Linked DNA regions of Homo sapiens. The protein of the gene in region 2 purifies or fractionates together with the protein of the main gene of each other region. This does not show direct contact. Each region holds a gene or a part of one and is shown on either strand. Other genes may lie near its edges. The genes, in order: CDO1 and CLIC2.

Region 1 (4,267 bases), on a different chromosome or scaffold from region 2:
TGATGGAGTAAGTTTCTCAGAGAAAGTATTTCCAAAGTGCATTACTGGTTGAGGCAAGAATGTTGCTATTGTTTTTTTTTTTTTCTTTTTTCTGCCTGTAGCTAAATCAAGACTTGAGAAACAAGGTTTCATTAAATAGCTGTTCTAGAATTCTTAGTTTTACTAAAGCCTAGACACAAACCACATTCAAAAGCCCTTATAATGAAAAGTCTTCCACAAATACCGTGGGGGCTGATCTAACTACCAGAACAAAGAAGACTACATTAGTGAAGTAAAGAACCCTCTAAACCTCTTACAATTAGGAGAAACCAGTAACTGGCAAACACATACACACAGACACACTCACCACAACCAACCACCACCACTGCCACCACCAACAACAAACTGCAAACCACGACCACGACTGTGAAAAAAGCAAAATCAACGTCAAAGTTTCTATTGGTCCAAGGTGTACTGTTGACAGCATCTAGTTAGCAAAGTTTCATAATTATGACATTCATTTAGACTGTCATGTTAAAGAAAAGGGGTCTTTACTCCATTTTTTGGGAGTTTTTTTTCCCTTCGTCATCGGTTAACTCTTGTCCAGCATGCCCCTTCCATCCTGTCCCATTCCTCCCCACCCCGAGGTGTCCGAAGAGCATGATCCTAGAGGGAGTTACTTAGTAAGTGCTTTTTAGCCTCAGTTTTCCCTACTTTGTAGCCTTTATGACCTAACAAGAAGCTGTGTACACAACCTTCAATTCACAGTAAACTGAGTTCCTGCAGAAGGATCCTAATTCTTCCTCCAGAAGTCTTAGGATAATCTTTGTTGCTTCTCTGCAGCTTCTTTCAAAGAATTCACAGCCTGGCCCACACGGGAGCATATTCTGTCTTGATTCTTCTGCACTGGCCCTCCCAAAGTCAGAGAACAGAATCCTTCACAGCGCTAGGCACCTATTTAATGCAAAAAATACTGTAGAATTGACTTCTCTCCCATCTCCTGTCTTCCCCCAACTGCCCCCTCGGGACTACATCCATTATGTTAATGAGCTGTACCTCAGATATCTGTGAAAAGACCGATCAACCCAGCTGGTTGCACTTCAAAAGCTTTAGAGTTTGTCAATCGAGACTAGTTCAAGGTCCTTGAAAATACACTTGTTCTAAAGATTAAAGATTAAAAACTGTTACAACCTGTCCTGGTTTAACAGTGGTTTAGAGTGTAGGCTCTGGAACAACAATGCTAACCCCGGGAGCCTGGAGCCGCTATCGATAGAAGACCTAGTGCAAGTCATTCAACTTCTTCATTGCCTGCCATTCCTCATATGTGTCAAGTGTCTGGAAGAGTACCTGTCCCATAACAAGTCTTCAATTACCTGGAGCAAATGCAAGAAAATTTAAAAGCTAGACTCTCTGCTAGCTTTCACGGCTACAGAAGGGCTCTACCATGAACTAAGCTGATAGGAGCCAAAGGAATTTCCTCAAGTCACTTGTATATGAAAAATGGGATCCTTAGTGGTCTTCACTTTTTCTATTTCAAATCCTAAAATACAGTTGAAACCGCCCATGCCAACAAAACTTTACGAAACATCCCACATGTTGAAGAGTGACTAAAAGAACCTGCTCCCAAGAAAAACAAACTTACTTCTTTCCTTATTCTTTTCTTTCACTTACCCCTTTCTCCTAACCCTAAACCCAAAAAACCACAAAGACTGACGCACTAACTGCTCAGAAAAAGTAGAACCTCTCACACTTCGGGGTGATTAAATTTTACCTCTGGCCCCGGAGGATTGGTAGAGAGATTCGACTTAATCACCAAGCCGGGGCTGCAAAAAAGCCAGCTTACCAGGGCACCTCACTCAAGTACATCTGGGAAGTAGGGGTCTTTAATTTACATTACAGATCGTCAGAAGCAAGGATAAGATAAATCAGATCATTTGGGGGCTGAAAAAAACGACGGTCGAATATTTAATCTGCGAAACTTGGCAGTGGATTTGAATAAACCCACAGTCGGGGAAGTTAGTTAAATTGGTTTGGGAAAGGGAACAGCAGAAATTCCGTAGTGGCAGCTGACGGCCACAAGACGCTATTTTACATGAGTAAAAATGCTTGCTATAAGGTGCCCGGTTGCAGGCGACCGAAGGCGCAGTGATGGAGAACTGACGCGGGTGACTTGTCTTCTTCAACATCACACACTTCTCCCGATGGCTGATGTAGTGCTCCCCTGGGAGCACCCTCTGCTAGTCCGGCCAGACGGTTCCTTAAGGTGTCAGGAGGGCCCGAACCTGAGTGCGGTCTCTCCGCATCTCCGCGCCCGGGGTTAACGATGGCTTGGGAGTGTGGGCATTGCTCCCGAGGCCAGGGGCAGGAGGACTGGTGGTTTAGAAGCAGAGGGGTTTGCGGGAGAGAAGAGAACAGAAAATCTCGCAGACGCGCGGTGGCCTCCCTTCCCGGCGCCTGTCCGCCGTTCCCGGCCGGAGGTCAGCAAGGCCAGTAGGATCCACCTTCCGCCTGCGCTGTGGCCGCGGAGCCCCAAGCGAGTCGTGCCAGCCCCGCGGCTGGCCAGCGAGGGGGCGAGCGGCGGACGCAGCGCGGCCCGAGCTTCCCGAGCCAGTCACTTTGGGCTGCGTCCCCCACGTCCATTCCTCCTCAGACGGGGCGAGTGGGCGCCGCCTGGCATTGAAGCTGCAGCGCGCTCACCTGTACTGGTCGAACTTGGCGTACATTGCCCACTCGGTGGGGTCGCTCTCGTAGGCTTCCATGATGGCCTGCACCTCCTCTACATTGACCTCATCGCCGGCAAAGAGCTGGTGCAGGATGCGGATCAGATCAGCCAGGGTCCGTGGCTTCAGCACTTCGGTCTGTTCCATCTCGTGGGGAGCTGGCTGCGCGCGCGTCTCACTGCTGGGCTGCGGTGGAGGAGCTGAGCGAGCCAAGGAGCTGGGGGCGAGGGAGCCTAACAGCCCGCTAGACCGCTAAGCAGACACACACGCACAAACCCAGCATTAGAGTGCCGAAACGTAAGGATGTCGTCGCAGAGACAGCAAGAGACCCACCCCCAGGCCCCTGGCAGCGCAGTGGATCCGGGATCGCTGGAGACGCGGTGCACACACAAATCAGGTTCAGATCTGTGGGGTTCATCCTCCCGGGCCCCTTTTAAGCGCTTGGAGTCACTAGGAATGTACCAACGGCCCTCGGAGGGAGGACGAGGCGGAGAGCCACCCAAGAAAGGTGGCGGAGGCGGGGAGACCCTGCGGGCACGGCTCACGCGCACATCCCCGGCTTCCCCGGGCTCCGCGCCTTCCCAAGAGCCCCGTTGTCTCCGGCGTCCCAGGGATCGCGTGGGCTCCGCGCAATCTCTCCCCCACTTTAACGGCGCGTTTTAGCCGCCCGGCCTAACGCCTCTCCCCGCTCCACCTCCGCCGCTGTGGTTCGCGACGCTGGGACGTAGACAAAAAGGGTCGGAGGAGATGGCTGCGGGGACTGACGCTGAGTAAAGGAGGAAAAGAAAAGGGAAGGAGAGGGACACTTCTTCCAAATAGAGAATTGTGAGGAGCCTGCGAAAATTGAGGATGGATTCCACTCCTAGGCCAGAGAGTGCCTGTTTTGTCGATTGAAACTATCCACGATATGCCCCAGGCTAGGTGAAAATAAGTCCAAGACTTTATATATATATATATTTAAGTATACACACACACATATTTTTTAAAATGCGTACTGAAATATATTTTGACAAAGGAGACTCGGGTCTCTAGTAAGACAATTAGTGAAATGATGGAAAACCAAGAACTCTTTGATTTTAAAATCAAATATTTTCTTTTAAAAAATATCCAGTGCAAATAACCTGATATTTCATTTGATGGTGTAAAAGGGGGCTTTTTCTGAGGGGATAGGGCGGGCTCTGACGCAATAATTTAAGAGGCTATAATTATATTTGAATCTTTCAACCTTAGGCATGTGCTTGAAGGAGCCTGCTAGTACATACATATAAGGAAACACGTTTCTACGTCATGCATAGCACCTAGTACGTTGGGAACAACACAAATCAAGTACAGTAGGATTTAAATGAGAAAGATGTGAAAGGTGGAAGAAATGCAAGTGTAGATTTCTTCCTTCTCATTATGGATGGACGCAGGGAATAATTTGGATTTAAGGTTATTAAAGTTCTAGACTTCTGAAGACCTGTTTTTTTCTAGACTATGATCACCCTCCCTCGTGTATATACATGTATACAATGAAATTTACTTGTGCCAGGTAGTCTTAAACATCTCTGGTAAAACTCGCTACATTA
Region 2 (3,820 bases):
TAATAAGAGAAAACCTAGGGAAAATTCTTCTGGACATTGTTCTAGACAAATAATTTATGATTGAGATGTCAAAAGCACAGGCAATAGAAACAAAAATAGACAAATAGGACTCAAGTAAACTAAAAAGCTTCTGCACAGCAAAAGAAATGAGTGAAGAGACAACCTTTTGAATGAGAGGAAATGTTTGCAAACTTCAACAGGGGACTAATATCCAGAATATACAAGGAAATCAAACAACTCAACAATAAAAAAAATCTCATAAAATATGGGCAAAGGGCATGGCCAAAATGTACATAAAGAAATGCTCAACTTTACTAATCAACAGAGAAATGCAAACCAAAACCAAAATGAGATATCATCTCACCTCAGTCAGAATTGCTATTATTAAAAAGACAAAAAAAAAATTAACAGACGTTGGCAAGGATGTGGAGAAAAAGGAACTCTTATACACTGTTTTTGGGAGTATAAATATAGCCACTATGGAAAACAGCATGGAGATTTCTGAAAAAACCAAAAGTAGCACTACCATAAGATCCAAAAATCTCACTAATTGGCATTTATCCAAAGCACGAGAAATCAGTATGTCAAAGGGATACCTGCACTCTCATGTTTATTATTGCATTATTCACAATAGACAAGGTATGGAATCGATCTAAGTGTCCATCAACAGATAAATGGATAAAGAAAGTGTGGTATACATACACAATGAAATAGTATTCAGCCATAAAAGAGAATGAAATCCTGTCATTTGGAACAACATGGATGGAACTGGAGTTGTTATGTCAAGTGAAATAAGCCAGGCACAAAAAGACAAAAATAGCATGTTCTCACTTATATGTGGGAGTTAAAAAAGTTGATCACATGAAGATAGAGAATGGAAAGAGAGATAACAGAGACTGGGGAGGGTGATTGGGAGGAGAAGGGAAGATGAAGAGAAGTGTGTTAAAAAGTACACACATAAATAAGATAGAAGGAATAAATTCAATGTTTGATAGAAGAGCAGGGTGACTATAGTTACAAAAATGTATTGTATTTGGGTTATGGACACCGTAGATACCTTGACTTTATCACTATGCATTACATACACATAATAGAATTTCATATGTATCCCATAATTTGTACTGATAAAAAAATTTAAAAGAAAGTGAACCATCAGGCCAGGCGCAGTGGCTCACGCCTGTAATCCCAGCACTTTGGGAGGCCGAGGCCGGTGGATCACAAGGTCAGGAGATTGAGACCATCCTGGCTAACACGGTGAAACCTCATCTCTACTAAAATTACAAAAAAAAAAAAAAAAAATTAGCCGGGCGTGGTGGCGGGCATCTGTAGTCCCAGCTACTCGGGAGGCTGAGGCAGGAGAATGGCGTGAACCCGAGACCCGAGAGGCGGAGCTTGCAGTGAGCCAACATGTGCCACTGCCCTCCAGCCTGGGCGACAGAGCGAGACTCCGGTCTCAAAAAAAAAAAAAAAAAAAAAAAAAAGAAGGTGAACCATCAGAGAGACATTCTCCTGCAGGTTTTAGAGGAAGAGAACAATCAGCCATGTTGCGAAATGCCTATACAGAGGGGCAGCCTCTAGTAATTGAATGCCAACCCAACCCCAACAAACAGCTACCCAATAACCTAAGACCTCAGTCATATAGCTGCAAGGAACTGAATTCTGCCAAAAACTTGAATGAAGATGGAAGAGTCACCTGGGCCCCATATGATAACTGTGTTCCCGACCAACACCTTGAATGCCACTTTTTGATACCCTGAGCAGAGGACCTTAGCAGGCTATGCCCAGACAACTGACCAATGGAAGCTGTGAGATAATAAATAGCTGTTGTTTTAAGATACTAAGTTTGTGGTAATTTGTTACACAGCAATAGAAAATTAATACAGCATGCTTCTTGTTTCTAGACCTATCCTGGGTAGACAGAGATGTGCGGTTGTCATTCAAGTGTAGGCAGTACAGTTCTGGCCTCTGGTTAACTGCTTGAAGTCTATGTCCTGGCCACTAGCCCTCGTGTTGGGTATGTTCTGTCATTTCGTCAGTGGTGTTAAGGACCAGTCATGACCAATCCTTATGAATTACATAGTGTTAGTATCCCATTCCCTCACTCCCATCTCACTATATGTTCCTACTCTATTTCTAGAGCACAGAGAACTTACCTTCTTGTGTTATGTATGTTATGCAGCTTTTAAAAATTATTTGAAATATTACACATATCATCTTTTTGTATTTGAAGTTGGAGGGGTATGTTTATGCATGTGTGTCATTTGACATGTAGGCCCAGAAATCCAAAAGTACTTAAATTGGTAAGAATACTAAATCTGCAATAAACAAGCCAGTAAAATAGATTATCTTCAGCAAAATAGTATCTTGTAAATGCTGTACCTTGGAGGAGCCAGGGTTTGTTCTAAAAACTCCTCAATTTTAATGAAGTCTGTTTTCAACTCCTTGTTATACACCAGGAACGGAGGATTGGTACCTGGGGCTAAGTCCTTTAGTTCTTCAGGCTTTCTATGATTATTAAAAATAAGCAGAGTTAGGTCTCTAGATAAAGTACACATTAAATAAACACCAATATTTTATTGGTATCTACCAATCTCAATTCCTAGAATTTAACATGTCCTGATTTCTCTTACCTGGTCATGTCAACAGTTGTCACATTAAATTTAACTCCTTTAAGCCAGAGGATCATGAAAAGGCGTTGGCAAAAGGGACAGTTTCCAATACTCTCTCCATCACTTCCAGCCTATTAAGATAAAGAGAGACCTCAGTTCATTTGTTTGTTCAATAAGTATGTATTTAGTTCCTAATAGGAAATGAGCCAGTTGCTAGAGACAAACATGGACATTCTTAATCTCATGTACTCCATCATCTATGGACAGAGAGATATAGGGAAGCAAATAATCTCATTATATGTAAAGTTACAACTGTGATGGGTACATAATAATAATAATAAATTTTATATATTATCAGAATTTATATAATTTTCCTATTGATAGACATTTAAGATATTCCAAAATTATTACTACTCTAAGCACTTCAGAAACAAACATTTCTGGGCATATAGCTTCTTCCACTTCTGAGATTATATCTTTAAGGTTAATCTTTAAAATGAAAATGGTCAGTAAAATGTATGCACATTTCCCATTTTGATAGATCTTACCAAATTTCCTTTCTTTTTTTTTTATTATTATACTTTAAGTTTTAGGGTACATGTGCACATTGTGCAGGTTAGTTACATATGTATACATGTGCCATGCTGGTGCGCTGCACCCACTAACTCGTCATCTAGCATTAGGTATATCTCCTGATGTTATCCCTCCCCCCTCCCCCCACCCCACAACAGTCCCCAGAGTGTGATATTCCCCTTCCTGTGTCCATGTGATCTCATTGTTCAATTCCCACCTATGAGTGAGAATATGCGGTGTTTGGTTTTTTGTTCTTGCGATAGTTTACTGAGAATGATGATTTCCAATTTCATCCATGTCCCTACAAAGGACATGAACTCCTCATTTTCTATGGCTGCATAGTATTCCATGGTGTATATATGCCACATTTTCTGAATCCAGTCTATCATTGTTGGACATTTGGGTTGGTTCCAAGTCTTTGCTATTGTGAATAATGCCGCAATAAACATACGTGTGCATGTGTCTTTATAGCAGCATGATTTATAGTTCTTTGGGTATATACCCAGTAATGGGATGGCTGGGTCAAATGGTATTTCCAGTTCTAGATCCCTGAGGAATCGCCACACTGACTTCCACAATGGTTGAACTAGTTTACAGTCCCACCAACAGTGTAAAAGTGTTCCTATTTCTCTACATCC

The links.
Region 1: the proteins of CLIC2 (region 2) and CDO1 fractionate together in Homo sapiens (co-fractionation; one large-scale study listed by BioGRID). This does not show direct contact.

Annotation. Positions count from the first base shown.
Region 1 is NC_000005.10:115,813,552-115,817,818, forward strand, and holds the start of CDO1 (cysteine dioxygenase type 1), read right to left. Parts: upstream 3,109-4,267; 5' UTR 2,847-3,108; coding exon 2,677-2,846; exon of another isoform or gene 1,036-2,676; intron 934-1,035; exon of another isoform or gene 642-933; coding exon of another isoform or gene 535-641; intron 404-534; coding exon of another isoform or gene 347-403; intron 1-346. UniProt on the Homo sapiens protein: Catalyzes the oxidation of cysteine to cysteine sulfinic acid with addition of molecular dioxygen.
Region 2 is NC_000023.11:155,296,406-155,300,225, forward strand, and holds part of CLIC2 (chloride intracellular channel protein 2), read right to left. Parts: intron 2,741-3,820; coding exon 2,631-2,740; intron 2,506-2,630; coding exon 2,380-2,505; intron 1-2,379. UniProt on the Homo sapiens protein: In the soluble state, catalyzes glutaredoxin-like thiol disulfide exchange reactions with reduced glutathione as electron donor. Displays weak glutathione peroxidase activity. Can insert into membranes and form chloride ion channels.